4 linked regions of the Homo sapiens genome follow. The protein of the gene in region 4 purifies or fractionates together with the protein of the main gene of each other region. This does not show direct contact. Each region holds a gene or a part of one and is shown on either strand. Other genes may lie near its edges. The genes, in order: ACO2, CLIC4, SPR and GATD3.

Evidence for each region.
Region 1: the proteins of GATD3 (region 4) and ACO2 fractionate together in Homo sapiens (co-fractionation; 2 studies listed by BioGRID). This does not show direct contact.
Region 2: the proteins of GATD3 (region 4) and CLIC4 purify together in Homo sapiens (co-immunoprecipitation; 2 studies listed by BioGRID and IntAct, with this or other methods). This does not show direct contact.
Region 3: the proteins of GATD3 (region 4) and SPR fractionate together in Homo sapiens (co-fractionation; 2 studies listed by BioGRID). This does not show direct contact.

What each region holds. Positions count from the first base shown.
Region 1 is NC_000022.11:41,514,111-41,521,131, forward strand, and holds part of ACO2 (aconitate hydratase, mitochondrial precursor), read left to right. Parts: intron 1-1,266; coding exon 1,267-1,425; intron 1,426-1,656; coding exon 1,657-1,807; intron 1,808-3,416; coding exon 3,417-3,521; intron 3,522-4,370; coding exon 4,371-4,462; intron 4,463-6,060; coding exon 6,061-6,166; intron 6,167-7,021. UniProt on the Homo sapiens protein: Catalyzes the isomerization of citrate to isocitrate via cis-aconitate.
Region 2 is NC_000001.11:24,740,726-24,748,446, forward strand, and holds the start of CLIC4 (chloride intracellular channel protein 4), read left to right. Parts: upstream 1-4,721; 5' UTR 4,722-4,828; coding exon 4,829-4,900; intron 4,901-7,721. UniProt on the Homo sapiens protein: In the soluble state, catalyzes glutaredoxin-like thiol disulfide exchange reactions with reduced glutathione as electron donor. Can insert into membranes and form voltage-dependent multi-ion conductive channels.
Region 3 is NC_000002.12:72,883,241-72,890,417, forward strand, and holds the start of SPR (sepiapterin reductase), read left to right. Parts: upstream 1-4,167; 5' UTR 4,168-4,192; coding exon 4,193-4,496; intron 4,497-5,073; coding exon 5,074-5,364; intron 5,365-7,177. UniProt on the Homo sapiens protein: Catalyzes the final one or two reductions in tetra-hydrobiopterin biosynthesis to form 5,6,7,8-tetrahydrobiopterin.
Region 4 is NC_000021.9:44,129,677-44,136,692, forward strand, and holds the start of GATD3 (glutamine amidotransferase-like class 1 domain-containing protein 3, mitochondrial isoform 1 precursor), read left to right. Parts: upstream 1-4,006; 5' UTR 4,007-4,021; coding exon 4,022-4,162; intron 4,163-4,425; coding exon 4,426-4,478; intron 4,479-5,233; exon of another isoform or gene 5,234-5,292; intron 5,293-6,383; coding exon 6,384-6,497; intron 6,498-7,016. Other genes in the region: PWP2 (periodic tryptophan protein 2 homolog), read left to right, coding at 921-1,095.

The sequences.
Region 1 (7,021 bases), on a different chromosome or scaffold from region 4:
TCCCCAAGAGATGAGACCTTTGGACCTTAGAGTCTGCTAGGCAGATGCTTGTCCTGAGGCAGAGGCCCTGGGGTTTCTGTAAGATTTCTGGGAGCACTGGTGGGTCCTGAGAGTTCACAGAGCCTGTCACACCTCTCATGTGTTCTTCCCCACATCCCCGGGTGGGGCACTAACTCCATCTGACTGATGAGCGGCAGAACCTCAGGTGAAGGCTCTTGCTGCAAAACAATAAATAAAAATGTTGCTTCCCGCAGGCACTATTCTGTGCCTCATGGACAGGATCTCATCCAGTCATCAGTGAACCAATGATGTGAGCACGATTGTTAGCTATTTCTTGATAGGGAAACTGAGCTCCGAGAGAAGTGACTTGTCCATGGTCCCACAACAACTAGTAGATGGTGGGGCCAGACCTCAGACCCCCCGATACAGGACGCCTGGCTCAGGGCTTGCCAAGCAGTGTCCTGCAGCTTCAGGGGGCCAGTGCCTCAGAGGTGCCTGGTGCCTGGGCCACACTTGGGTGTTGAGCCTATACAGCACCCAAGGTGTTGAGCACTTGGGTGTTGAGGTGTTGCTGCCTTTCTTACCAAATGTTTTGGGGGAAGTGCTCCCCACGGCTGGGAGGAGCGCCTCAGTGAAGGGAGTACTGTGAAATGGGACAGGTGATGAGGCAGGGTGGCATCGCGCCTTGAGCAAGTCACATGGGTTCTCAGAGCCACCTCCAGATGCTGAAGTGGACGAGGCATCACCTATTCTTTGCAGTTGAGGAAAAGTTCATAGCTTTGTGTACCCACTGGGGCCTCCCAGGACTTCTTCCTCAGGGGCCTTGTGGGGCTGGAGCCAGCTCCTGGAAGAACCACCAACCCCGATGAGAAGCCAGGTGGGGATGCTCCACACCCAGGATGAGGCCGGGCCTGGGCCCATCACAGGACAGTTTCTCTGGTTCTTGTCACATCCTGGGGTCATGGTGGTATGGGTGTTTGGTTACTGTGCTACAAATGAGGAAACTGAGGCATGGGGCAGCATTCAAAGGCCCAAGACATATAGCAGGAAATATCAGAGCTATTCAAGAGCCCAGGCCACCTGTCTCCCAAGGCTCTGGCTCTTCTTGGCCACCCTGGAGACGGCCTGGATTAAATGGGGCTGCTCCTACCAGTTCCATCCTGGGAGAGTGGCTGGACGTGGTTGGGAGGCCCCGGGTCAGTGGGGCCATTTTTTGGTATTCTCGGCTGAGGGCTTCTAAATATAACATCTTGGATTATTTTTCAGATTATTCTGGAAAACTATGCGTACCCTGGTGTTCTTCTGATTGGCACTGACTCCCACACCCCCAATGGTGGCGGCCTTGGGGGCATCTGCATTGGAGTTGGGGGTGCCGATGCTGTGGATGTCATGGCTGGGATCCCCTGGGAGCTGAAGTGCCCCAAGGTGAGGGTGGGGAGGGACTCATTCTGGGCTGGCTGTGGGGTGGTGGTTGGTGGGGATGAACGGGAGACGGTGGGACCCAGGAGGGAAAAGGGAACAAGTTAGACTCGAATCTTCTGGGAGGGAGGTAGAGACCAATAAGCAGCAATGTGAATGGCAGCAGGGCCATCCTGACTTCGTGGCTGGCACAGGCACACACGGCCTCTCACAGCCGCCTCGCCCCCTCCTGTCCAGGTGATTGGCGTGAAGCTGACGGGCTCTCTCTCCGGTTGGTCCTCACCCAAAGATGTGATCCTGAAGGTGGCAGGCATCCTCACGGTGAAAGGTGGCACAGGTGCAATCGTGGAATACCACGGGCCTGGTGTAGACTCCATCTCCTGCACTGGTGAGGAAGGCGGCCAGGCGACGTGGCCCCTACCCTGTGCTGGGCCTGATGGGTCTCCAGTTGGGAGTAGAAGCGGTGAATGGCCTTCACTTGAGAATCTGTCTGTTCCATTTGGGGACTTGGGATAGACAGAGGTAGAAGGAAAATTGGAGACAGCATTAGAGATTGTCTAGTCCACATCCTCATTAAACAGATGAAGAGATTGAGATACCTGTCGAGGCTGCCGGTGACTTCCTAACTGTGTGGCCACACACGGTTAGGAGCCAAGTCAGCTTCTGCTGCTGGGCCCAGGCCATAGCACTAGGCCACCTTGGGTGATCTAGACGAATCCAGAGAGGACAGAGGCAGTGGTGGGAATGGGCAGAGCCAGGGCTTCATTCATGAAGCAGCTGCAGGCCCACATCCTCCCTTCGCTGAAGTTCGAGCCTCACTCACTTCCCTTGGATTAGAGATCGGTGCCTGTCCGCCTCCAAGACCAGGTAGGAGCCAGCTGCTCCCTGCCTGTCACTCCTGGTGACCTGGCCTGGATGCCTGGTCCTCAGAAATCCAGGGAGATTTGTAACAGTCTAGACTTCCCAGGTGCCTGCCTGGGCTCCCTGGCAGCCCTGCAGAACTCTGGTTCCCCTGCAGTGATGGGGGCTCACTCCTGCCACGGGACTGCTCAGTCAGGACGTTGGTAACAGGCCCATACCTCCGTCCTAGTGGCTCCTGAGGCAGGTGGCCTGGTAGCAGCTGCAGTACCTGTGAGCCCCACCAGTTCTGTGACGCTTTGTGGTCCAGACAGTGTGTATCATTTCAGTTTTTGTTTTTGTTCTTGTTTTTTGAGACAGAGTCTAACTCTGTCGCCCAGGCTGGAATGCAGTGGTGCAATCTCGGCTCACTACAACCTCCGCCTCCTGGGTTCAAGCAATTCTCCGGTCTCAGCCTCCTGAGTAGCTGGGATTACAGGTGTGCACCATGATGCCTGGCTAATTTTTTTTGTATTTTTTTTTAGTAGAGATGGGTTTTCACCATGTTGGCCAGGCTGGTCTCAAACTCCTGACCTCAGGTGATCCACCCACCTCGGCCTCCATCACTGGAAAACTTGAGACACAGAAAAGTGTCTCCACCATGGTATGGCTGAAGGAGGGCAGGCCACCAGGCAGACAGACCAAGATCCGAATGTCAGCATCTACCTTTATGTGCTTTATGGCATGACCTTGAATCTCTCTGAGCCAGTTCCTCCCCTGCCAAAAAGAATAGCAACTGGGCAGTGTCTGGTCAGGTCAGCCTACAGTACGTGGTGCCTGTTCAATCTCTTGGGCGACAGTCAGGCCCCAAGCTCGCAGCTCAGTGTGTGGGGGCTGAATCTTCACCTGAGTCCTCTTCATTCTACCCAGCAGCCACCCTGAGCTGGGGCCCTGAGCTCTGATCCCCATGGCCTCCCCTCACCGGCCCAGGTTTTTACCCAGGGCCTCAAGGGATGAGTCGGCCCGCTGTCACCACATCTCTCTGAGTGGGAGGAGAAGCAATGCAGCTCCCTGGTGTGAAGATGCAGGTGGCCGCGTAGCAGGTGTGTGGGACCCTGGCCCGGCCACCAGCCAATGCCCGGGGCTCTGTTGCTCCACAGGCATGGCGACAATCTGCAACATGGGTGCAGAAATTGGGGCCACCACTTCCGTGTTCCCTTACAACCACAGGATGAAGAAGTACCTGAGCAAGACCGGCCGGGAAGGTGAGCTGGCAGGGGCAGGCCCGTGTGGGTGGAACAGTCACATGCCCGCTCCTCCCCAAGACAGAGCTATGCCTTTCCCTGTAGGGCAGGGGTTCTTAACCCATTGTCTCCAGACAGGCGTCCGAGGCTCTGAGAAAGCCCTGAAGAGGTGCAATATGTTTCTGAGTAGATTGTCTGGAGCTCTCTCCAGCTTCTCAAAGGGCCTGGCATCTGAGTTCAAGATAGCCCCACCTCAGGATGGGCATTTCATTTTCCCTGGAAGGTGGCTGAATGCCCGCCCTTCTCGGCCTGGTCCCTGCTGCCCCCTACAGGAAACTCCGGAAATGACATGGATCGCTTCTGTTGATAATTCCTGACCTAGCAGGGGAACATTTGGAAGGAGAACCACTTTCCCAGCCTCCCCTGACAACTTCCCTGAGGCTCTAGCCTGGCTTCTTTGGAGCTCAGAGGGCATTGGCACCTGTGAAGGGTGGTGCGTTGTGGGAGTGAACGAGGAGCCAGAGACCAGGGGCCATGGGGAGAGCCGTAAGCACGTGGAATCCTTGGAAGGCTCCTCCCTTTCCTTATTGAGTGACTGCTTCTTCAAAACCCAGCTCTTCACTTCCAGGACACCCTCCCCGGCTCTGAACCTTAGCTGGCGCTCCTCCTCTGTGTCTCCGTGTCCCTGACAGCTCCTGCACTAGGGTGTGAGCTCTGTAAGGGCAGAGACAGCAGCCTTGGTTTCTTCATTGGCCTAGTCAGTGCCCAGGGTGGGCCTGGTGTTTGGCAGGTGCTCAGGTGGGTGGTGAGTGAACTCTCAAGAACAGTTTATGTTTCACGTGCTCCATCCCCGTCCCTTGTTGATTTCAGACATTGCCAATCTAGCTGATGAATTCAAGGATCACTTGGTGCCTGACCCTGGCTGCCATTATGACCAACTAATTGAAATTAACCTCAGTGAGGTGAGGAGACAATTAACTGGGTTCAAGAAGTTTCTGAGAGTAGTGGGGAGCAGGGCGGGTCCTGCCTAAATACTCACTGAGGGCCGGGTGGTGGCTCACAGCTGTAATCCCAGCACTTTGGGAGGCCAAGGCAGGTGGGTCAGTTGAGGTCAGCAGTTCAAGACCAGCCTGTCCAACATAGTGAAACCCCGTCTCTACTAAAAAAAAAAAAAAAAATACAAAAATTAGCTCGGCATAGTGCCATGTGCCTATAATCCCAGCTATTCAGGAGGCTGAGGCAAGATAATCGCTTGAACCCGGGACGCAGAGGTTGCAGTCAGCCGAGATCGCACCACTGCACTCCAGCCTGGGCGACAGAGCGACACTGTCTCAAAAACAAAACAAGAAAAACCTCAGGGTGACTCGTGGGCCCCTGGGTCCCCAGTGTTCCTGCAAACTGCTTCCTGAAGCAGCCTGGAGCAGTGGGTGGGGAGGGGGGAGACACAGCCACGGGGAGAGCAGAGGTAGCTCTGGCTGCTGAACCAGAAGTGGATGTCAGTTTGCCACCAGCTCAGCTTTAGGAGAAGCCAAGGTTTCACCCTGAAGGGTTTTTGTTATCTGAGTTCAGAGGGCAAATCCCAGCAGGGTTAGGCACCCTGAGACGCACAGATCAGAGCAGGTGTTTGCAGAGCCAGAGGAAGGGCAGGCTAGAGGATCCCGTCTGCAGGAGTTCACACCTCGGCTCTGCCACTTAAGTTGTGTGGCCTTGGTCACGCACTTAGCCTCTGTAGGCCCCTTGCTCCATCACGTGTGGAACCTACAGCAGTCGTGAGGATTGAATGAATTCATGTAACTAACACTGACGGAGGTTTACTGCATGCTGCGCACATAGCTGAGTGCCTCGCATTTACTGATGATTATGATATGTAAAGCGTCTGGCCTTAAGTCCATTTTTGTCATGATTCCAAAAGCGGCCGGGCATGGTGGCTGACACCTGTAATCCCAGCACTTTGGGAGGCCGAGGCGGGCAGATCATGAGGTCAGGAGATTGAGACCATCCTGGCTAATGTGATGAAACCCCGTCTCTACTAAAAAAATACAAAAAAATTAGCCAGACGTGGTGGCGGGCGCCTGTAGTCCCAGCTACTCGGGAGGCTGAGGCAGAAGAATGGTGTGAACCCGAGAGGCGGAGGCTGCCGTGAGCCAAGATCGTGCCACTGCACTCCAGCCTGGGCAGCAGAGCGAGACTCCATCTCAAAAAAAAAAAAAAGATTCCAAAAGCAACATCGAATGGGAGATAATGAACTTAGGAAGCTGACAGCCTTGATCCATTCCATGCCTCTGCTGTCTCCTAGCTATGTGACTTCAAGCACAGCATGTCACTTCTGAGCTTCAGTTCCTTCATCTGCAGAGCTGAGCCCAGCCTTGCAGGGCTGGAGGGAGCCCGGGAGCGGGTGTGTGCAGAGCCAACTGCTCAGTTCTTCCCTGTGATGAGGTTTCAGTCAAGAGAAAGTCGTTGGCCTCTCTGTGGGGACGTGGTGAGGCAGTGAAAGAGGCTGTCCCCGCTTCAAGGTTTCTTCCCTCCTCTCTTTCTTCTCCTTGCATGTTTGTTTCTTCAGCTGAAGCCACACATCAATGGGCCCTTCACCCCTGACCTGGCTCACCCTGTGGCAGAAGTGGGCAAGGTGGCAGAGAAGGAAGGATGGCCTCTGGACATCCGAGTGGGTGAGCACCTTCCACCCCATCTGTTTAGCAGGTCTCAGGGCCAGTGGCTCTGCCCAGGGCTGTAGACAATCACCTATGCCTACTGTGTGGCACTTTCTAAGGTGGGCAGTTTCTGAAATGGGTTTATTATTGAAAAATTACTTTTTCGGCCAGAAGTGGTGGCTCATGCTTGAAATCCCAGCATTTCAGGAGGCCAATGCAGGTGGATTACTTGAGTCTAGGGGTTCAAGACCAGCCTGGGCAACATGGAAAAACCCCGTCTCTTAAAAGAAAATGCAAAAATTGGCCAGGGGCAGTGGCTCACACCTGTAATCCCAGCACTTTGGGAGGCCGAGATGGGTGGATCATGAGGTCAGGAGATCGAGACCATCCTGGCTAACACGGTGAAACCCCATCTCTACTAAAAATACAAAAAATTAGCCAGGGGTGGTGGCAGGCACCTGTAGCCCCAGCTACTTGGGAGGCTGAGGCAGGAGAATCGCTTGAACCCAGGAGGCGGAGGTTGCAATGAACCGAGATTGTGTCACTGCACTCCAGCCTGGGTGACAGAGCGAGGCTCCGTCTCAGAAAAAAAAAAAAAAATTGGCCAGGTGTGGAGGCGCATGCCTATAGTCCTAGCTACTCAGGAGGCTAAGGTGGGAGGATCACTTGAGTCCTGGAGGTCAAGGCTACAGTGAGCCGAGATGGTACCACTGCATTCCAGCCTGGGCAACAAAGGCAGACTCAAAACTGCAGACTCAAGCAACAGAGCCTGCCTCCAAAAAAAAAAAAAAAAAAAAAAAAGAAAGAAAAGAAAAATTACTTTTTCTTGGCAGAAAAGAAAAATATGTTTATTGTAGAGAATATTCACAATCA
Region 2 (7,721 bases), on a different chromosome or scaffold from region 4:
ATTAAGGTCAGGAGTTTGAGACCAGTCTGGCCAACATGGCAAAACCCCGTCTCTACTAAAAGTACAAAAATTAGCCAGGTGTGGTGGCACATGCCTGTAATCCCAGCTACTTGAGAGGCTGGGACATGAGAATCACTTGAACCTGGGAGGTGGAGGTTGCAGTGAGATGAGATTGTGCCACTACACTTCAACCTGGGCGACAGAGTGAGACTCCGTCTCAAAAAAAATAAAAATAAATATAAATAAATAAATAAATAAATCAAGCCTTGCAAGACCATGATGAATAAATATGATTGGATATGAAAGCACCCAGCTAGGTGTCTGGCATGCAGTGTGAGAGCTCAGTGACCGGTCAAGAATATGGACAGATGGGAATAATACCAACAGCTAGTGTCTACAGAGCACTTACAATCCAAGCTCTTAACATAGACTAATTTATCAATGATCCTATTAAATATTAATAGGTACTAATTTTAGATCCATGTTTACAGACGAGAAAATGGTACTAATTTAGATCCATTTTTACTGATGAGAAAATGAAGCACAGAGAGGTTAAGTAAGTATCCTGAGTTAGTAAATAACAGAAGCAGGATTGGAACCCAGGCAGTCTGGCCCCAGAGTCCATGTGCATAGCAGCTCATTCTGCTGCTGAAATTGCAGAACTTTGGGCTGAGACAGTCAGCGAGCAGCACCACAGAGTTAGAAGTGGGAGGAGGAAAGTGTCATCAAGGGAGGCTTACTGGAGGAAAACCTGACCCCCTGTGTAGGGGCAGTCATAAACACAAACCACCTGGCTTCCCAGACTGGAAGAGCGTGACAATCCAAATGTCATGTCAGGGGTACATGAAACCATAGGATAAACATGGTACAGTCACTCACTCCATAAGCTATTTTTTTTTTTTTTTGAGACAGAGTTTCGCTCTTGTTGTCCAGGCTGGAGTGCAATGGCGCAATCTCGGCTTACTGCAACCTCTGCCTCCCAGGTTCAAGCGATTCTCCTGCCTCAGCCTCCCAAGTAGCTGGGATTGCAGGCATGCACCACCATGCCTGGCTAATTTTTTGTATTTTTAGTGGAGACGGGGTTTCTCCATGTTGGTCAGGCTGGTCTCGAACTCCCGACCTCAGGTGATCCATCCGCCTTGGCCTCCCAAAATCCTGGGATTATAGGCGTGAGCCACTGCGCCCGGCCCACTCCATAAATTTTTATTGTGTACCATGAGCTGTCCTCTGAGCCAGGAATATAGCCATAAACAAAACCAAACAAAAAATCCCTGCCCTTATGGCATTTATGTTCTAGTGGGAGAAGACAGACAATAAGCAGATAAATAGGTAGATATGTATCAGAGGGTTGTAAGTGTTATGAAGAGAGATAAAGTGGAGGGTGGAGTGAAAGATAGCAACTTGCAACGTTGCATAGGGTGGTATTTGGGGAGAGCGCTCTGAGAAGATGACATTTGAGCAAAGAGCCAAAGGAAGTAAGGGAGTGGGAGTTGCAGAAATTCTGGGGGAAGAATGTTCCAGAGAGGGGGAAGAGCAAATGCAAAGGCCCTGAGGCCACAGTGTGCTTCGCATATCCAAGGACTAGAAAGGAGGCCAGTGAAGCTGGGGTGGAGAGCACAGGGGAGAATGGTAGGAGATGAGGTCAGAGGGGTGTGTGTGGGAGGAGACAACATGTCTCCACCCATCTTAAAGATTTCTGTGTGCTATAAAAACAAGCCTGAGTAAAGAATGTAAAGCAGGCATGCAATTCAAAATTCGAAGAGGAGACTTGACTGCTATGTGGTTAGGGGGCCTCCCCTGCATAAACATCCTCTTTCCCTTTCACCCACTCCCAGGACTGACTGCCCATCCATGGGAGCCATATGAGGGCGGAACTTGGGAAACTGTAGGTGTGACTGAGACTACGTCTAAGCACAGGCTCTGGGTCTGAGCCTCTTCCTGGGGGGCTTCCTGTTGGGTAGGAGGAGCCCAGGAGATCATCACCACCTCAGGGCTCTGTGGAGAATGCCCCTGGCTTCCTCCTAGCTAAGATCTCTGTTTAGTCAATGAAGCCTAAAGGGCCCTGGTCTGTTCCTCCTTCCATACCCTGGTGCTGTGAGGCCAGTTGGAGCCTGTGAAGGGCAAGTCACCACCGGGAATATTTGCTGCCTCTAACTCAAATTCTTTTTTTTTGAGATGGATTTCGCTCTGTCGCCCAGGCTGGAGTACAGTGGCGTGATCTCGGCTCACAGCCACCTTTGCCTCCCCGGTTCAAGCGATTCTCCTGCCTCAGCCTCCCGAGTAGCTAGGATTACAGGCATGTGCCACCACACCCGGCTAATTTTTGTATTTTTAGTAAAGATGGGGTTTCGCCATGCTGGCCAGGCTGGTCTCGAACTCCTGACCTCAGGTGATCCACTCGCCTCGGTCTCCCAACGTGTTGGGATTACAGGCATGAGCCACTGTGCCCGGCCTCAATTTGATCAATTCTCAGGTACATTGAGTTTCTGCTGAATTGTTTTTTGGCTTAGATCTGCTTTGAACTGATTCACCATTTGGTTCCTTTTTGGTAGGGCAGAGAGGGTGGATTCTGGAAGGAAACTTTGCTTCAGTTCATGATTCTATGAAAAATTAACACGGTTCAGTCCAGAGTCTAGTCAGTCACTTCAGGATTTTCATGGTTCAAGCCCCCATCTAAGGGGAGCCTCCTGGAATTTATTTATTTATTTTCAACGAACTAGCCGGGCATAGAGAGAGTAGAATATGATGCCACATTCTAGCCTGCAGGGGTGGTAGGGACAGAATAAGTCTCAATGCAGTTAACAGCCATACTGACGGAGCAGCACATATGGTAAGGCAAGAATCAGTAATTAGCCCCACCCACTTCTAGATAATGAAACTGAGGCTTAGGGGTTTTAAGGACACTGCCTTGTCAGATTTGAACTTAAACAGTCAGACTACAGAGCACGTGTTCCTGACCACTGGGATACACTGGCTCTTTCACAGAGCCTCTGTGAGAAAATTTGAGCAACTTACTTTGGGCTGGCAGAGGAAGAAATTGCAAGTTTCACTGTATTTTCATGCCTACGTACAATTTGTTCAAACATTCTGGTATGTGCTAGGCACCGAGGATATGGAGACAAACCTCCCATGTCTGGGCCTCCTGGAACTCACTATTTATCCCAACCTGGGAAGTTGGGAGGAGTAGCTGTGAGTCAAGTATTATGGAAAGTCAGAAAAGGGCACAAGTAATTGTTTCCAGAGGAGGTGAAACTTGCCCCAGGCACTCAACAGCAGCAAACTAGGACCAGGTGCCTACAATCTCAAGGCAAGCACAGCTCTTGCCCTCGGGGGCTTAAATCCCAGGGCAGTTTAACTGGTTTGCGGACCACCTACTTCAGAATTGTCCTGGTGCTTGCTAAGATGTGGATTTCTCTTTTTCCCAGAGGATCTGGGAAACACAAAAAGCGGGGCTGCGTGTAGCACCTAGGTGATTCTGATGCACACTCAAATTTGACAGGTGAGCCGGGGGGAAGAAATGGGTGTGGGCAGTGGGGAACAAGATGGACAACGACTTGGAAGTCCTTAGTGGCCTGCAGGCACTGAGATTGCAGTTCAAGATCTTGAGCTTTGGGAGTTGTTACTCTCCAAGGGCTAGCTCAGAGCCTGAAACACAGTAAGGTTTCATAAATATTTGTGAATATGCGCCCGGCGCGGTGGCTCACGCCTGTAATCCCAGCACTTTGGGAGGCCGAGGCGGGCGGATCACGAGGTCAGGAGATCGAGACCATCCTGACTAACACGGTGAAACCCCGTCTCTACTAAAAATACAAAAATTAGCCGGGCGCGGTGGCGGGTGCCTGTAGTCCCAGCTACTTGGGAGGCTGAGGCAGGAGAATGGCGTGAACCCGGGGCAGAGTTTGCAGTGAGCCGAGATCGCGCCACTGCACTCCAGCCTAGGCGATAGAGCCAGACTCCGTCTCAAAAAAAAAAAAAAAAAAAATATATATATATATATATATATTTGTGAATATGCTGGCTGCCAAGATCGAAACGATCAGGAGCGTCAAAGGGAAAAACGAAGTCAGAGGCAGAAGAAAAAGGTGTTCCCCAGGCGATGAAAACTTTCCAGTAAGTTGTCTTGGAAAAGGCAACTCCGCGTAATAGAGGGACTTGGGGAGGTAGCCGCTGCGGGAAAGGGCGATGAGTCCTGGGGTGCTGCAGCGGGGGAGTGGGTAGGAGGCGCCTCCTAGCTTCCCCAGGGCGGCCGAGGCATGAGGTCACCTGGCACAGCAACAGCAGCAGCTGCGGAGGACGCGCAGGCGCTGCGGCGGGAGGCAGTGTCAGGCTCGGGCCCCTGGGGAATTCCTCCCCTCCTTTCCCCCCCGCACCAGTCCCCTAGAGAGGCGTACCCGGGTCCCGCCCGCCAGAGCCTGAGCTTTGTACCGCCCACCAAGGCCACGCCCCCTACCAGCTGTGGGGCGCCGCAGAGGTCCTTTCTTCGGCTCCGGAGCGGTCCCTCCGCCTTCCCCGCTCGAGGCCACGCCCCCGTGCTCCTGCCGCCTTATTTTCCCCGGAGAGTCCCGAGGCGCCGCGCCTTGGCCCTGCCTACAGCCCGAGGCCCCGCCCCCGGCGCCCCTCCCAGCCGTTTGAAGCGGCTCGGGCTGCGGCTGGCTCAGAGTGGCGCGGGGGGCGTGGGGCGGTGCTGAGGAGCTGAAGCCGTGGCCAGCTCGACGCCGGACAGTCCAGCGAGCAGCACGGCGGGAACCGGCAGCCGGAGCAGTCCCGGAGCAGAAGCAGCAGCAGCAGCAGCAGCCCTCGCCGTTCGCGGAGCGCAGCCGAGCCGGCCATGGCGTTGTCGATGCCGCTGAATGGGCTGAAGGAGGAGGACAAAGAGCCCCTCATCGAGCTCTTCGTCAAGGTGAGCGCTCGCCTCGCGGTCCCGCCCGGCAGATCCCCCGGCTCCCTCCCGGCTGCGGGGAGCGGCGTCCCGGGGCTCTCCTGAGGCGCCCCCGCTCGGCGCCAGCACCCGTCCCGCTGCGGGCACCCGCGCCCCCGGCCCATTGTCTGGGGGCCGCCCGCGCCTTCCCGCCTCCGAGGGCCCGTCGAGGGGTCCGGGTTGGGGACCCGGGCGGCGGCCACCGTCTCCAGCGCGTAGGCATCGGCGGACGCCAGACCAGCGTCCCGCGCCCGGGTGGGTCGGGAAGAGCCCACGGGCGGGACTTGCCTGCCCCGGGGCCCCAGCGCCGGGCGCGCGCGGGTCCTGTCACCACCCCCCGCCCGGGCGCCGGGGCCCGGCCCCACCCGCTCCCCAGCGCTCCGGTCCGCCGCCCGGAGCCCGAACTGCGGCCCGCCGCCCGATGAGCTTTCAAACGAACTTCTTTGAACGCGTTTTTGAAAAAGCATTTGCTCCCCACTGGTCTGAAACGGAAACTTTAATTTTCGATGCAATCTTAAACAAATTTACCAAAGAGCAGGTGCTCTTGGACCTTCGGAAAAGACCGAGATTCCCAACTTGTGTTTTTCTGTCTTGGGCATTTACTGGCTTTCTCGTTTCTCAAGCGCGGAGTGTTCTGTATGATGCAACATTTTGGCTTCTCCCCCCGGCGTTGCTGCTTCGGGAAGGATTGTGTGTGCCCTTTTGTTTTGAAAGAAATTGAGGGAGAGAATTCTTAACTTGCTTGGGCTTTAAAGGGTTGGTTTTCCCTTGTGTCTTCAGCTTTCATGTGTGGAATTTATTTGCTTACACATACTACCCCTCTTCCTTTGCTTTTCTCTTTAATACTTTTTATTTTAGCAAAGGAGAGAGTCGAAGTTATAAACATCTGGATCCAGCTCCTTCCCTCAAAACTTAAAAAAAACACTTTGAGCTTCTTCCAGCCACTTAAAAAGCCAGGCTCATTCAGAGCTAGGCAACATACCGGAAAGTAAATGGTCATCTAGAACTATTGGGTTCTTTTTTTTCCCCGAGTTTTTACTTTAAAGAAAGGACATTTCAGGATGTGTTTAAGAGATAGAGAAGGGCTGGGCGCGGTGGCTCATGCCTGTAATCGCAGCACTTTCGGAGGCCGAGGTGGGAGGATTACTTGAGTCCAGCCTGAACAAGATGGCGAAACCCTGTCTCTACAAAAAAATTCAAAAATTAGCTGGGAGCGATGTTACGCGCCTGTACTACTCTGGAGGCTGCGGTGGGAGAACTGCTTGAGCCCGGGAGGTCGAGGCTGCAGTGAGCCACGTCGCACCACTGCATTCCAGCCTGGGCGACAGAGCAAGACCCTGTCTCAAACAAAAGAGATGGAGAGAAGAAATAATCTGCATTTACCTCTGCAGTCTTCAGTAATGACTGGAACAGTGTTTGCCTTAGGATTTTCTTTCAATTGTCAATTTTCGATTTTTTTTTTTTTTTTTTTTTTGGTCCAGGGAACTGAAACAGCAGACAGGTATAGAACCCCCAAAATATCAAAGCGTTTCGGTTACTTTGAGTGGCAGATATAGTACTTTGAGATGCGTAGAATGTAGGAAGGAACCTGAAATACAAGAAAGGAAGGAGGCCGGGCGCGGTGGCTCACGCCTGTAATCCCAGCACTTTGGGAGGCTGAGGTGGGCAGATCACGAGGTCAGGAGATCGAGACCATCCTGGCCAACATGGTGAAACCCCATCTCTACTAAAAATACAAAAATTAGCTGGGCGTGGTGGCGCGTGCCTGTAGTCCCAGCTACTCGGGAGGCTGAGGCAGGAGAATTGCTTGAACCCGGGAGGCAGAGGTTGTGGTGTGCGGAGATTGCGCCACTGTACTCCAGCCTGGGCAACAGAGTAAGACTCCATCTCAAAAAAAAAAAAAAAAAAGAAAGAAAGGAAGGGTGGTGGGTGGAAAACAGCATGGAGAAGGGAAACAAGTGGGCCAGAGATGAGTTAAAAAAAATTTTTACTGAGTGAGGAATAGGAAGGAATTTCCATAAACTCAAAAAAAGTGCATCCATGAATAATCTGTAAAACATGATACTTAACGGTGAAACTTTAGAACAGTATTAAACTTAGAATAAGCTACTATCGGGCCGGGTGAGGTGACTCACACCTGTAGCATTTTGGGATGCCGAGATGGGGAGATCACTTGAGGCCAGGAGTTCGAGACCAGCCTGGCCAACATGGTGAAACCCTGTCTCTACTAAAAATAGAAAAATTAGCCAGGCATGGTGGTGGGCCCAGCTATTCGGGAGGCTGAGGCATGAGAATCGCTTGAACCGGGGAGGCAAAGGTTGGAGTGAGCCAAGATCAAGTCACTGCACTCCAGCCTGGGCGACAGAGTGAGACTTCGTCTCAAAAAAAAAAAAAAAAAGATAAAGCTATTATCAGTTATGGCTCTATTCAGTATTCTATTATTCTATTGGAGGAGCTAATCAAAGAAGACAAGAAAAATTAAGTATCTGAATTAGGAAGAGATCAGTGATTAATGCCCTGCTTACTATTAATTTCATCTTTCAGTTAGAATAGCAGAGGGGCGTGTGCAGTTTTCCAAACTTGAGTCACTTGCATCCCCTTTCTGTTTTTCATATTTGTGTTGAGAACCACTGAAAATCATCCTTCCTACCACTAGTTGTAAGCCTTTCTCATTGGGCTTGGTGGCAGAGAATCAGGGTTCAAGTCACAGTTCTTTACTCCTTGGTTGGGTGACCCTAGGCAGTTTGTTTTCACTCTTTAAGCCTTGTTTGTCTCATTTGTGAAATAAGAAATGTTTTCTGCT
Region 3 (7,177 bases), on a different chromosome or scaffold from region 4:
CCAGCACCTATAAGTAGCATGAATGTGGTCTCTTCAAAGCCTGGTACTTGGTAGGCACTCAATAAATAGAATAAATAGTTATTGAATGCATAAATAAATGAATGAATGAAACTAAATACGCATAAAGCAGCTGTCACCAGGTGACAGATTATTGAGAAATCCCAGAGCAAAGGAAGCAATAAAGAAAAGATGAGTTTGGGAGGGTAATGAAAAGCTCAGTCTTGGCAGAGAGGAAAGCAGAGGGACCCTGGCTGTCTTTTCCTTTCTTTCAACCTACTAGTAAAAGACGGGAGCTGTCCAGCATGGACCTCCTGAAGTTGGAGTGCCGCTGCAGGGACGAAAGCCTGCTTTCCTAACCCTGCCCAGGATCACTTCATTGCCATCCTTTATCAAATACACCTTTGTTCCCTGTGTGCTTATCCTTCCCAGTCCTTTTCCCTTTACTCAAATGTGCCCAGAAAGCCCATGAGCTACATGAAGTCTTATTGTTCCCAAGCTTTTCAAAAAGCTTTACTCACTCCAGTAACTTCCATGCCATTAAAGTGATGACTGGGATGACAGAAACAGTGTCTTCATAAATGTATCCATTGAAATGTGTTTGGTGCTTCCTTTGTGTGTATCTCTCAAAAATAAGCTTTTCAAATTTGGTGAAAAGCCAAGATTGGGGGCTCAATAGTCTAGCAAATTTCTTAATGAGGAAGCCCTGCTTCTCTATCACACACCTAGTTGATTGAGTTGTGTGTCTCCCCTCCCCAACCTCTAAAGACATGTCTACTTGAATCCTGTGAATCCCAACAAGTTTCTCATCTCCATCTGAGACCACCTCAGCCTGGACCTTATTGTCCATATCACTATCAACATTTTGGTCAAAGCCATTCAACAAGCCTCTAGGAAGTTCCAAACCTTCCCACAATTTCTTATATTCTGAGCCCTCCAAACTGTTCCAACCTCTGCCTGTTACCCGGTTCCAAAGTCACTTCCACATTTTAAGGTATCATTACAGCAGTACCCCACTCTCAGTACCAATTTACTGTATTAGTCCATTTGCCCACTGCTGATAAAGACATACCTGGGGCTGGGTAATTTATAAAGAAAAAGAGGATTAATGGAATCACAGTTCCATTAATCTGTGGATTCCATTAATTAACACAGTTAATTCCATTCCATTAATTAACACAGTTCCATTAATGTCTGGGGAGGCCTTACAATCATAGTGGTAGGTGAAGGGTGAAAGGCGCATCTTACATGGCAGCAGGCAAGAGAGAGCTTGTGTAGGGGAACTCTCACTTATAAAACCATCAGATCTCATGAGACTTATTCACTATCATGAGAAGAGTATGGGAAAGACCCGCCCCCATGATTCAATTAACCTTCCACTGGGTCTCTCCCATGACACATGGGAATTGTAACACATGGGAAATATAATTCAAGATGAGATTTGGATGGGGACACAGCCAAATCATATAACCTGCCAATATTTATTATCTGTCTGTTTTATTTTAGCCATCTTAATGGATATGAAGTGGTATCTTATCGTAATTTTGATTTGTATTTCCCTGATGGCAAATTATGTTGAATATCTTTCTATGTGCTTATTGACCATTTGTGTAATTTCTTTGGATAAATGTCTGTTCATATACTTTGCTCACTTTTTCATTTTACTTTTGACTTATAAGTATGGCTTTTTTTTTTTTTTTTTTTTGAGGTGGAGTCTTGCTCTGTCACGCAGGCTGGAGTGCAGTTGTGAGATATTGGCTCACTGCAACTTCTGCCTCCTGGGTTCAAGCAATTCTCCTGCCTGAGCCTCCTGAGTAGCTGGGACTACAGGTATACGCCACCACGCTCAGCTAATTTTCATATTTTTAGTAGAGACAGGCTTTCACCATGTTGGCCAGGCTGGTCTTGAACTCCTGACCTCAGGTGATCCACCTGCCTCAGCCTCCCAAAGTATGACTCATTTCAAAAACTTTGTTATTTAGAAATAATTTCAGACTTTTACAAAGTTGCAAGAATAGTATAAAGAATTCCTGAATACTTTTAATGCAGATTTCCTAAATGTTAACATTTTACCTTTGCCTTATTCATTCTAATTTTTTTCTGAAACATTTGAAAGTAAGTTGCAGATATGATGCCCCTTTACTAAATACTTCTGTGTACTTCCAAAAACAAGAACACTCTCTGATATAACAATAGTTCACTGGTCAAAGTCAGGAAATGATTCAATGCCAATAACTAACCTACAGACCTTATTCAAATTTCACCCATTCCCCTACCCATGTCCTTTATCAGGCTTATGTTTTTAACACAATTTTTACACATTTCTTACCTTTCAGGCATTTGTATCTTTTTAAAAGAGTTACTGTTGGCCAGGTGGGGTGGCTCACACCTATAATCCCTGCACTTTGGGAGGCTGAGATGGGAGAACTGCTTGAGTCCAGTTCAAGACCACACTGGGCAACACAGCAAGAGCCATCTCTATAAAAAAACACAAAAATTAGCGAGAGCAGATAATCATCTTCCTCAGAAAAGAAGAATTTTCCAGACCCTCTCCTAGTATAGGAAAACCACGTTCTCCTTAGGGGCTGTTCCCAAGTGGTTCCTCCTAGAAGCAGCTAGGTTCAGAAGAGTCTAGGTCTGATTTTTTGCCATCCCTTCATTGTTCCCTCCTTTTCTTCAAAAATCTGGCAAATGGTAGAAATTTAACAAATGTCAAATGAATGGATGGATGGGATCGTGCTTTCATCAACCTGTCTTCTAAGGCCTGGAGAGCAGGGAGAAGCTATTAAAATTCTTTAAATAGTAAGCTGTTGGGCCAATGAGATCTTTATCTTCAGTGTGAATAGGTAAGTGAAAAGCAGGGCAACTTCAAATGGTATACACATATACAGAGTCTTATCAGCGTTAAAATACCAAAAGCTTAAAAAACAATTAGCCAGGCGTGGTGGTGCGCACCTGTAATCCTAGCTACTCAGGAGCCTGAGGTGGAAGGATTGCTTGAGCCCAAGAATTCAAGGCTGCAGTAAACTGTGATCACACCTCTGCACTTCAGTTTGGGCCACAGAGCGAGACTCTGTCAAAAAAAAGAAAAAAGAAAAGAAAAAAGCCTTCCTCCAAGTTGTTTCTTCCTTAGAGTTGGCAATAATAGTGGAAAGGCGGTAACTTTGCTGTTTAGCCCCAGGGGAGGGATCAGCCCTGTGGGGAATTGGGCTAAGTTATCAGAGGTTACTTACTGCCCTTGCTAAACTCTAAAGAGATTCGTTTTTTAAAAACTGACACACAATATTTGGACATATGTATATACACAATGGAATACCACTCGGCCACTAAGAAGGAAACCATGAAGAGATTCCTTTTTAATATATGTAGCTGCATGCCAACTTGTCTCACGTTCCTCCTCTCCTAGAAAAAAAAAAATGTGGATTTTTCTGAAGCACCTGCCTGGAGGTACAGACAGATGATTGCGCAAACTTGAAGCTGAAAGTGGATGGAATTGCTGCCAGGGAGACTGTAGCATGAGCAGGAGCAGAATCCTGGGGAACACACTTTTAGGGACAGGAGTCAGAAATCTCAGAGAAGCAGGGGTTACTGGTGGGATCACGGAGCTGCTCAGGGCCTAGTAAAAGGGAAAGGTTTTAATATCATTTGGAGCCACTGTGGTTCTCCCAGAGGAAGCTCCTGTCATCCAGAGAGCGGTGAGCTCCCAAACAAGCAGAGACTTCAATTCCTAAACAGGCATAAGCTTCATTCAGGGTGTTCACTGGCCACGACCAGGGACGCCCAGCACCCAGTGCAGGGCCTGCCCTGGAAGAGGTCAGTAGTGCAAAGTTAGGGCTGGAACTGGGAGGAAATTCGAGCATGCGTCCCAGCCGGAGGCTGAGCTTGCGGGCGAAGAACACGGCAGCGCTGGGAACCGGGCTAGGGCTTTCCGTGTGGGCCGCGCCTGCCGGCCCTCTCTGTTGTCCCACTTGGCACGGACTGGGCTACCGCCACGGTTTGACTTCCGCCACCAGCAACCAAGGGAACCAGATCCCAAGGGAACCAGCACCCCTGGGCGCTCGCGGCCCGAAGCCTGAGGTTCCCGCCCCGCCCCGGCAGGGCGGCCCCGCCGACACCCGTAGCGGTCCCGCCCCCCGCGGCCGCACCGCCTCCTGCCTGGTCTCGGGTGCCAGCGCCGCCGGCGGAGAACAGGAGCATGGAGGGCGGGCTGGGGCGTGCTGTGTGCTTGCTGACCGGGGCCTCCCGCGGCTTCGGCCGGACGCTGGCCCCGCTCCTGGCCTCGCTGCTGTCGCCCGGCTCCGTGCTTGTCCTTAGCGCCCGCAACGACGAGGCACTGCGCCAGCTGGAGGCCGAGCTGGGCGCCGAGCGGTCTGGCCTGCGCGTGGTGCGGGTGCCCGCCGACCTGGGCGCCGAGGCCGGCTTGCAGCAGCTGCTCGGCGCCCTGCGCGAGCTCCCCCGGCCCAAGGGGCTGCAGCGACTGCTGCTTATCAACAACGCGGGTAAGACCCCGGGGCTGGAGCGGACTCCCCATGTGAGCGCCCACTTCCTCCACCGCTGGGGAATTTAAGGGCTACTCCTAGGGGTCAGATAGGACGCCTAGAAATCTAAAGCCCTAGTTGTTCCAGCTTGAGTAGCAAGTGGAGGCGAGGTGTACAGGAAGACTCGGTGCCGTCGGGACAACAGTCTGCCCCCACTTCCTGGAAAATTGGCCAGCCGGGTTTTCCAAAGCGCCTGTAGAACTTTCCCGAGCCCCTTGCTCTGCGCCCTCTGGCGGAGGCCTGAGTCAGGGCTTGGAGTCTCCAAACAAGTAAACTCTCTGCTTCTCCAAAGGACCGCTAGAGCTTTCCTTCAGCCCCACGGCAAGGCAGGTGCCTTCTCATTCTGCAGCTTGGGATGGCTAGGTTCCCCAGCTGTGTCTTTCCGCAGAGCTGGGGAAGAGAGAAGCCTCTTCAGAAGCGCTAGGCAGCTTCCTCCTCTAGGTCTGCATGGGAAGAGGATATCTGGAGGAACTTGGGAGGGCTGGGGAAGAAGAAAGCCCCGCCTGCACTGAGTTACTCCTAAGGGTTGGTTTTTCAGGCTCTCTTGGGGATGTGTCCAAAGGCTTCGTGGACCTGAGTGACTCCACTCAAGTGAACAACTACTGGGCACTGAACTTGACCTCCATGCTCTGCCTGACTTCCAGCGTCCTGAAGGCCTTCCCGGACAGTCCTGGCCTCAACAGAACCGTGGTTAACATCTCGTCCCTCTGTGCCCTGCAACCTTTCAAAGGCTGGGCGCTGTACTGTGCAGGAAAGGCTGCTCGTGATATGCTGTTCCAGGTCCTGGCGCTGGAGGAACCTAATGTGAGGGTGCTGAACTATGCCCCAGGTAGGTGGGAAGTCCTGCCGTCCCTGTCCTCCAGAACCCACTGGTGCGCCTCTGGGGGCTGGGCAAGCGGCCTAGTCCGCCCCCTCCAGGAAACAACCCACAGGATTTTGTCCTTGAATCTTGACCCATCACCCCTTAGGGGAAATACAGACCCAGGGGAAATAGAGGTGGCAGGGGCCGGGGATACTGGTAGAGAGTGAGGAGTTTCCTGGACTGGAGGGTGGGGCAGGAAGGTCTGAGGTATTAGATGGAGTTTGGGAGAAGACTGGGGTTTGAGTTCCAGGCCTTCCTCATGTGAAATGGGGAAGACGCTCCCTGCCTCACAGGGCACTTGGGAAGACTGAATGAGATACTGTATGTGAAAATGACCCTGACCTGTGAAGTGTTGCCTCATTGTTAAATAGGACTGACCACACTGTATTGTCTGCATATGTTTGCTTGCCTCCTTCCCTCCCTTGACAGGAAAGCCTTTGCACTATGCAGATGTGTGTTCCTAACACCTAGCAAAGCACTACACTAAGGCAAGCTGCAGGACATGCTAGCTGTATGGAGAGCAGACAGACTTTGTTGAGTGCTGACCATCCCTGGCTGAACTGTGCTGGAACACTATTGAGGATTCTGGGATAAATAGAATAGATCCCTTGCTCTCATGAACGCCAAAGGACAGGGAGTCTTGTGATACTGGGTCTAGTTTCTGATGCCACAGCGCCCCTGTCTTAATAGTGAGGAGTCTCTTTTAGGCTTGAGGTTGCTGCAATCAGAAGGTGGTGACAGAGCAGCCATGGAAAGCCTGAGCAACTTGGGCAGAAATCCAGTAGCCTGTGTCCCTGGGGAATAGGGTCAGGCTCCCAGGGCAGACAGGTAGAATGGCCTGCACAAAGCACAGATGTGGCAGGGCTGGATCCCACCTTGCTTTCAAGTTCTTCCTCATGTTCTCCAGTACCCCAGCCCCTACCACCCCTGCCCCCCAACACACATGCACAATTATTCTCACAACCAACATTCAACTCATCATCCACTCTGAATTCAGCCCAAGGATTCGCACAAACAACAGTGACCAAATGTAAGCTACAACCAGGAGCAGAGCAGACTCCAGAAGTCCACATGGCTGCGTTTGGTCTCAGGAGGCTGCCCTGGGCATTATGAGGGAGCTGAGATTTTCAGGAGGTCCCCAGGGCCTGAACCAAGGCAGAGGCCAGTCTGGTTTTCATTTCGGTCTCAGGAAGAATGTTCTAACAGGTGCTCAGAGATGGAATGGGCTGTTTGGAAAGGCAGCAAGTCCTCTCTCAGCAGGGATGCACAGGTCATTGGAAAATAGTCAAGGACCAGGAGATAAATTCTCCCTCCAACCCTGGAATTCTCTGATGTTCTGCCCTCGAGGACCATTAACTGCAAATATTGGGGTGCATGAGTGATTCCTATGTGAAGAATAGAACGTGCTTGCAACAGTTCAAGAAGGGAACAATTCCTTTAGGTGGGGAGACTAGAGATGGCTTTATTGGAGGTAGCTGAACTGGACATTGACCTTGGTTGTTGGCAGATGGAAGGCATTCCTGATGAAAGGAAATAAAGGTGCGAAGGCTCACTGTGGGCGTGGCAGGTCTTCAGTTTGCCTGTAGAGTAGGTGTGCCCAGAGGAGGGCAGACTAGGATGCCTTGAGTATTAGGCCAGGCTACTGGGAAGCTGTTGAGGGGTTTTGAGCGGAGGAATGTTGTGATCCCAGTGATGTTTTTGTTTGTTTATTTGTTTGTTTGTTGAGATGGAGTCTCACTCTGTTGCCTAGGCTGGAGTGCAGTGGCACGATCTCGGCCAC
Region 4 (7,016 bases):
TAGGCTGGAGTGCAGTGGCGTGATCTCGGCACATTGCAACCTCTGCCTCCCAGGTTCAAGCAATTCTCCTGCCTCAGCCTCCCAAGTAGCTGTGGTTACAGGCACACGCCACCACCCCCAGCTAATTTTTGTATTTTTAGTAGAGACAGGGTTTCACCTTGTTGGCCAGGCTGGTCTGAAACTCCTGACCTCAGGTGATCTGCCTGCCTCTGCCTCTCAAACAAAGTGCTGGGATTATAGGTATGAGCCACCATACCCGGCCCAGCTCCTTTAGATTTATTCCCTCTTATGGGATGTTTTTAGAGTTCACGTAAGTGCATTGTTCCTTGGACCTCCTGTCTAGGCGTTCACTGCCAATCTGTAGGGTTGCCATTGGCTGTCAGGAAGAGTCCTGCACAGAGGGTCCTGTGCCCTGCAGATGCGATGGGGCGCTTCCTTCCTTTCTCATCCATTTATCTTTCAGTTCTCCTTTCCTATGTAAAGTGATGGTGGCATCACTTTTCTCCTTTATTCCATTAACTCAGAAAATTAACTGATTCAGAGCGTGCCTTCCTCCCCTCTCGCTCCACAACACCACATAGCTCTGCAGCGGTCTCTTCCTAAGTGTTTGGTGGAACTTGCTGGTGAAGCCATCTAGATTGGGCCCAGCGGAAGGGCTGAGCTGCCAGGATGACCCCAAAGGGATGGGATGTTACAGTTGGGTCCTTGGGTCCTTGAAGGCCTTTGCTGCCCCAGGGCTGGATGGGGCAGAACCAGATTGTTGGGGCAGGGAAAAGAGGAAAAAAATGGCTGCTGGGGTGGAGGAACCGGCATGTCCAGCCCCTGCTGCTTTTCTCAGGGGTCACAGAGGAGGTGGTTGGGTGCAGGACAGGCCAGGGCCTGGGCGTTGCTGGCATTGACCATCCCTGTGTGATTGACAGCTGTAGCTGGAACCACTATAACATGCAGTACGCACTAGCAGTTTCCAAGCAGCGGGGCACAAAACGCTCCCTAGACCCGCTGGGAAGTGAGGAGGAGGCAGAAGCATCTGAAGATGACAGCCTGCATCTGCTTGGAGGAGGAGGCAGAGACTCAGAAGAAGAGATGCTGGCCTAGAGCCAGCCGGTTGCAGCGTTGGATTGTGCCGGCTAAGACCTGCCAGGGAGATGGGACCCTTGTGCCACCTGGGCCAGCAAAGAGGAGGGGTCCAGAGAACAGCTGAAATACTGTCACTAGTGGTAGTGACTTGCTTTTCCTGTGCACACATGTAGCCCATCAGGACAGCGAGCCGACGGGTCACGCCAGGGGCCGGCACGCACTGGCACCTGGCCCCAGGAGCGGGGCCGTGTGAACGGTGATGAATGTTGAAAATGCGTCTCAGAGAGGTATTCACATGAACTTTGTATGAGACTTATTTATATCTTTAACATAAAGGTTTGATAAAGAACTTAGGGATTAAAAAAAAGATGGAGTTTTCTAACGTGAGGATGAAGTCTACACTTCAGATTAAAAAGGGTTATGTTGTATCCTGCTGTCTTGTGGGGGCTCAAGACCTGCCTGCCTTACCACCAGGGCCTCCGTCCTGGGGAAGCAGGCTGACAGAGCAGGGTGCTCCTGCTGTCTAGCGGGGGCTCTGCCTTGTGACCTGTGCATATCCTTGGGGTCAGGGGCACAGAGCCTCTCCCTGACCTCTTGGGGATGCTTTGGAGTCTGGGGCTGGGATTGGCCTGTCTTGGTGAGCTCACTCAGACCTGCACCAGCTCTGCGTGGGCCACACGGAGGAGGAGACAGCTCCTCCCCTCTGCAGTGCCCTTGGGAATAGTCATCATGAGAGAGGCTTGGGTCTCCATCATGGTAGGGCATCCTGGTCCCCACAGCTCAGTAACAGCAGCCTCCAGGGTCAGGACCTGAGGCTGACACTGAGGTGGGCACTTCACCGACTGCCAGTGCTGTCTGCCAGGCCCAGCCTGTCCCTCGCCAGCGGTGTGGCCCCCAAGACCCTGGGTAGTACCTGGCTCCCTTGCTTATCTGGGAAGTGGAGCTGATATCTGCCTGCCGGCCTCCCGGGGGTGGCGTGAGGCCAGATGTGCTAGAGAGTGGAGATGAATACGACAGGCAGTGCCTTGTGGCCCACAGCACTGTACCTGCAGGCCTGCAGACCAGAGGTCTTTGTAGAAGGGAGGAGCTCAGGCCCTGATGACACCAGGTGTTCTGTGGCTGCACAATCTCCGTGACCCAGACGAGAGAGAATCCTTAGCTATCGCCTACCCAAAGCACAAGTTCCAGTGTTCCCCTCCCTTGCCTCGCCCTTTTCCGTGAAACAATTTCCAGCGTTCCCCCTCCTCGCCTCACCCTTTTCTGTGTCACATGTGCATGGCGATGGACACCTGAGTAGTCGCCCCTGGGACAACTGGAGCTGCGGCTCTGCAGTGGGGTCTGGGAGCTCCCGGCCAGGGGCAGCTCCCGCACACTTGGTAGAGACAGGGTCCTGGCCCCCACACCGACTGAGTGAGAGTCTGCATTCGGCATTTCCTTTCTGAGTGGCGCTTGGTGTTTTTTTGTGCCATCCCACAACCCCATCGCTCCCACCAGCTGATGCTCCCTGGCTGGCCGCTCCCCAGGAGCTGAGAAGCCTGAAGAGGGCCAGGCACGGAGGAGCAGGAACGAGGACAGTCAAATGTGCCAAGCTTGTCTTTGGTTGTAACTGGTAATGTCCCATGTCTGTTATTCTAGTTCCCCACTATCTTGCAAGGATTGGCAGTAAAGTCCTAGTGATGGACAACGCGGCAGTGGGGAAAGTGACAGCCGTGGCTAGATCATCAGATGTGTCTGTAGAATCCGGTGTGTCCCTGTGAACATCCGCCAGCAGTAACCATTCACATTATTTCAAAAACCTGCATTATTAGGTTGAAAATGGGTAAATCGGGGAAAAAGCCAGCACTTATCCAGCTATTCCTCTGTGAACTAACCCATGCATAACAAACAGATTTTTTTAATGGAAGAATTCCAGCTAGGACCCGAGCAGCTGGGATCTTCACACTGACCGTCCATGCTGTGAACGTAAAAAACAAAAACAAAAAAACAAACCCAAACAGCGCCCGGGAATGGTGGCTCACGCCTGTAATCCCAGCACTTTGGGAGTCCGAGGCGGGCAGATCACCTGAGCTCGGGAGTTCAAGACCAGCCAGACCAACATGGAGAAACCCCGTCTCTACTAAAAATACAAAATTAGCCTGGCGTGGTGGCGCATGCCTGTAGTCCCAGCTACTTGGGAGGCTGAGGCAGAAGAGTCGCTTGAACCTGGGAGGCGGAGGTTGCGTTGAGCCGACTTCGCGCCATTGCACTCCAGCCCGGGCAACAAGAGGGAAACTCCGTCTCAAAAAAAAAAAAAAAAAAACCCAAACAGAATCGGCGGCTCACTTGCCCCCAGACTAACCCAGATCAAGCCCCTGGGTGGAACTGCAGTTTCCAGGATACAACATCCCGGGGTCAGTAAAACCCGGAGGGGTCGCTCCGTGGGAGCCGGAGCCGCGAGGAGACAGTCATGGAAGCGGAGGGGTAGTCCTGACCCCGCGTGGGTCCTGACGCCGAGATTAAGACGAGTGGCCATTTAGGAGGATGTGGACCCTGGACGCTCGTGGTGAGTTAAGGATGAGACGGAGGTAAGGTAAGAAGCGCCGGACTGAGCCGCCCCGAGGCAGCCTTGCTCTGCGGATGGCGGAAAGGGTGCGCCGCCTGTGGAGGCGTCCGATGGGGGCGGGGCTGGGGACCCCGGGAGTCACCAGCATCCCTCAGCCTCGAGCACGAGCCCTCAGCCACCACCGGAAGGAAGACAGGGTTCCCGGAACTCTATTCGGAGGCTCTGCGCAGGCGCGGCCCCCGCCCACCGGCGAACTCACTGGATAGGGCTGAGACGGGGGCGGGTCTTGGCTCCGCCCAGAAGGCTGCGCAGGCGCAGTCCCGACGAGCAACGCGTTTGTAGAGGGGTGGGTGCGCACGCTCTGTCCCTGCGTGACCTTCCGACCCCGCTGTCCTCACCGCAATGGCGGCTGTGAGGGTCCTGGTGGCCTCGAGGCTCGCTGCGGCATCTGCATTCACGTCCCTGTCCCCCGGCGGTCGGACGCCTTCCCAGCGCGCAGCCCTTCACCTCTCCGTGCCGCGCCCCGCGGCCAGGGTCGCGCTGGTGAGTGGACGGAGGGGGTGAGGTCAGCTCCCGCCTCCAGAGATCAGCCTTCGCTGTTCTCTGCCCAAGGTCGGCCCCTCTTCCTAGGTCCGCTCCCGCCGCCCCACGTCGGCTCCTTCACCCCAAGTCAGCTCCTGCGGCCCAGGTCGGCCCCATTTTCCCGGGTCAGCGCCCGCGGCCCAGGTCGGCCCCTTTCCCCCCAGTCAACTCCCGCCGCCCAGGTCGGCCCCTTTCCCCCGGGTCAGCTCCCGCTCCTCTCGCAGGTGCTGTCTGGATGCGGAGTCTACGATGGGACCGAGATCCACGAGGCCTCGGCGTAAGTCCTCAGGGGCAGCTGGTCCTCCACCCCGGGGGCCTCGAGAAGGCCTCTCCACCAGTGAAGTTTACTCTTTTTTGAACAGCTTAGAGAAAGCATGTATTTTATTTTATTTTTACTTTTTGTCTTTTGAGACAGCGCCCAGTCTGGAGTGCAATGGCGCGATCTTGGCTCACTGCGGCCTCCGCCTCCTGGGTTCAAGCGATTCTCCTGCCTCAGCCTTCCGAGTAGCTGGGACTACAAGCATGCACCACCACACCCAACTAATTTGTGTATTTTTGGTAGATACGGAGTTTCACCATGTTGGCCAGGCTGGTCTCAAACTCCTGACCTCAAGTGATCCTCCCGCTTTGGCCTCCCAAAGTGCTGGGATTACAGGCATGAGCCACTGCACCCGGCCGAGAGAGCTTGTATTTTAAATACCCTATTCTTGGCTAAAAAAAAGCAAAAACGACTTGCAAAACCCAGGGAGACGCTAAGAAAGAACAGTTTTTAAGTGTCGCTTATGCTGTCACCTAGAGCCTAGAAATGACTTAGCATTTCACTTGAGTGTTTTTCAGGACACACACATTTTGAAAACACTGAGATCACACTCACCCGTGTTTTGCAAATGTTTCTGACGCATGGGAAGTAATTCCCATTCATTCAGTTCTCAACATCATTTTAACAGTTGCGTGGTATTTCTGGGTCCTAGACAGGTTACTGTTTACGTAACTGGTCAGCTGTTGCTGAGTGCTTGGTGGCCTGATTTCCTGTGCTACTGGAAATGACTGCAGGCCGAACCAGTAGGGCAGGAGGCCACCACGCGTGCCAGGTACCTGTAGTTCCCATGTGGTTCAGGGTGAACTGGAGAGGGGAGAGCTGGGTGGTGGCGAAAGGGGTGTCAGGCCATGGAGAGTGGCCTGAGGCTGGTGGCTTTGTGGGTGGCCCACCTTGGCTGGTTGGAGTTGGCACTAGGCAGAGTGAGCTGGGGGAAAGGGCCAGGATGTGTTTCATGATTTGGCCTTGGTGGGATAGAAAATAGCCCCAGAATAGCTTGAGCCCTCCCAGGCAGAACGGCAGGGTCTTGTGTCTGGGGTGTCTGGGTGGATTTCTTATGGGTAGCGGAACCCAAGTGCCAGGGCCAGGTGCTGACCTCTCCCTCTGGCAAGTCACTGCACTTCATGCCTCGGTTTCCTCCTCCACGTAAGGGGCAGTGAGGGCTTAGTGTGTGGGTGGGCTTAGCCACCTATCTCCTGTTGGCACTGGGAGTTGCGGATGCCAGCGTGAGCCCCCATAATGTCAGCTGTTGTCCCCAGGAGGAGCTTCTGTTGCCCTTGCCCTTGGGGAGATGGAGCTGCCTGGCCTGTGGTGTTGTCCTGGGGTCTCTTGTGTCTCTCCCACCATCTGTGATGGGAAAGTTGAGGGAGACTAGAAATTGAACTAAGTAGTGACCGAAAGCCCCGTCACACCGTCTGTGCACGTGGCACTCTGAGCACACTGCTGCTTCTCACTCTTGGTGCTTGCAGCAAGCAACTGGAGGAGGGCAGCCAGGCCCTGGGTGTAGGTAGAGCACTCAGCAGCCGGGGACCCGCACGCCTCCAGGCTGTGCCCTCAGTGGAGTCACCCGGCCCCCATACCCCAGTTTGCAAAGGGAGCTGTTGGGACCAGCTGATCTCCATAGCCCACTTCTGAGGGTTTGTCATAGTCGTAACCCACCAACCGACAGTGAATTGGAATGGGGGTGTGGGGGACGTTTGGCTTGGTATGGAACCAACTGTAACTTTTTGCAGAGCAAGTAAGATATTAATATACATTAGGAATTTGCTCCTGGTACTTAGCTAAAATCCTGTTTTTAAAAATGTGTTAACACAAATCTGAGTGGGGCACGTTTTGAAGAGTTGTCTCTGGTTTTCCCCCGTGCAGGATCCTGGTGCACCTGAGCCGTGGAGGGGCTGAAGTCCAGATCTTTGCTCCTGACGTCCCTCAGATGCACGTGATTGACCACACCAAGGGGCAGCCGTCCGAAGGCGAGAGCAGGTGTGGGGGTGGGATTGGAACTTGCTTCTTGTCTACCTCCCACGGTGCAGCCTTTTTTTGCTGGCTTAGCTTAAACCAAGTCTTGTGTGCAAATGAACGTCCTTCTGAGCAGCTGTGCTCGGGCTGTTCCAGAAGTAATGCTGCCAAGGCTCAGGAGTGCCTTCCTTCCAGTACTCACAGAAGGACTGAAAATGGCGACCGGATCGCTTCCCACTGAGTCAGGCTGCTCATACCTTGGTCTTAAGCAAAGGTGGTGGTTCTCAGCTTGGTCGCCCACCTTCTTCCCCTGTCTGGGCTCCAGATCTGTTTTGCTGGTTCCCAGCAGCATGTCTGTTACTGCGGTGTGTGTGGTTCTGGCCTGTGTGGCCTGAGATCCCCTTCCCTTGCCTGTCCTGCCTGACAGCCCTGTGCAGGCCATTCCAAGGTGCCTTCCAACTGGCCTCGGACCACGAGAGGTCGGAGCTGGAGATTCGAGGAAGAAGCCATAGCTGCCTCCTGGGGCTGTGCTTCTCACCAGTG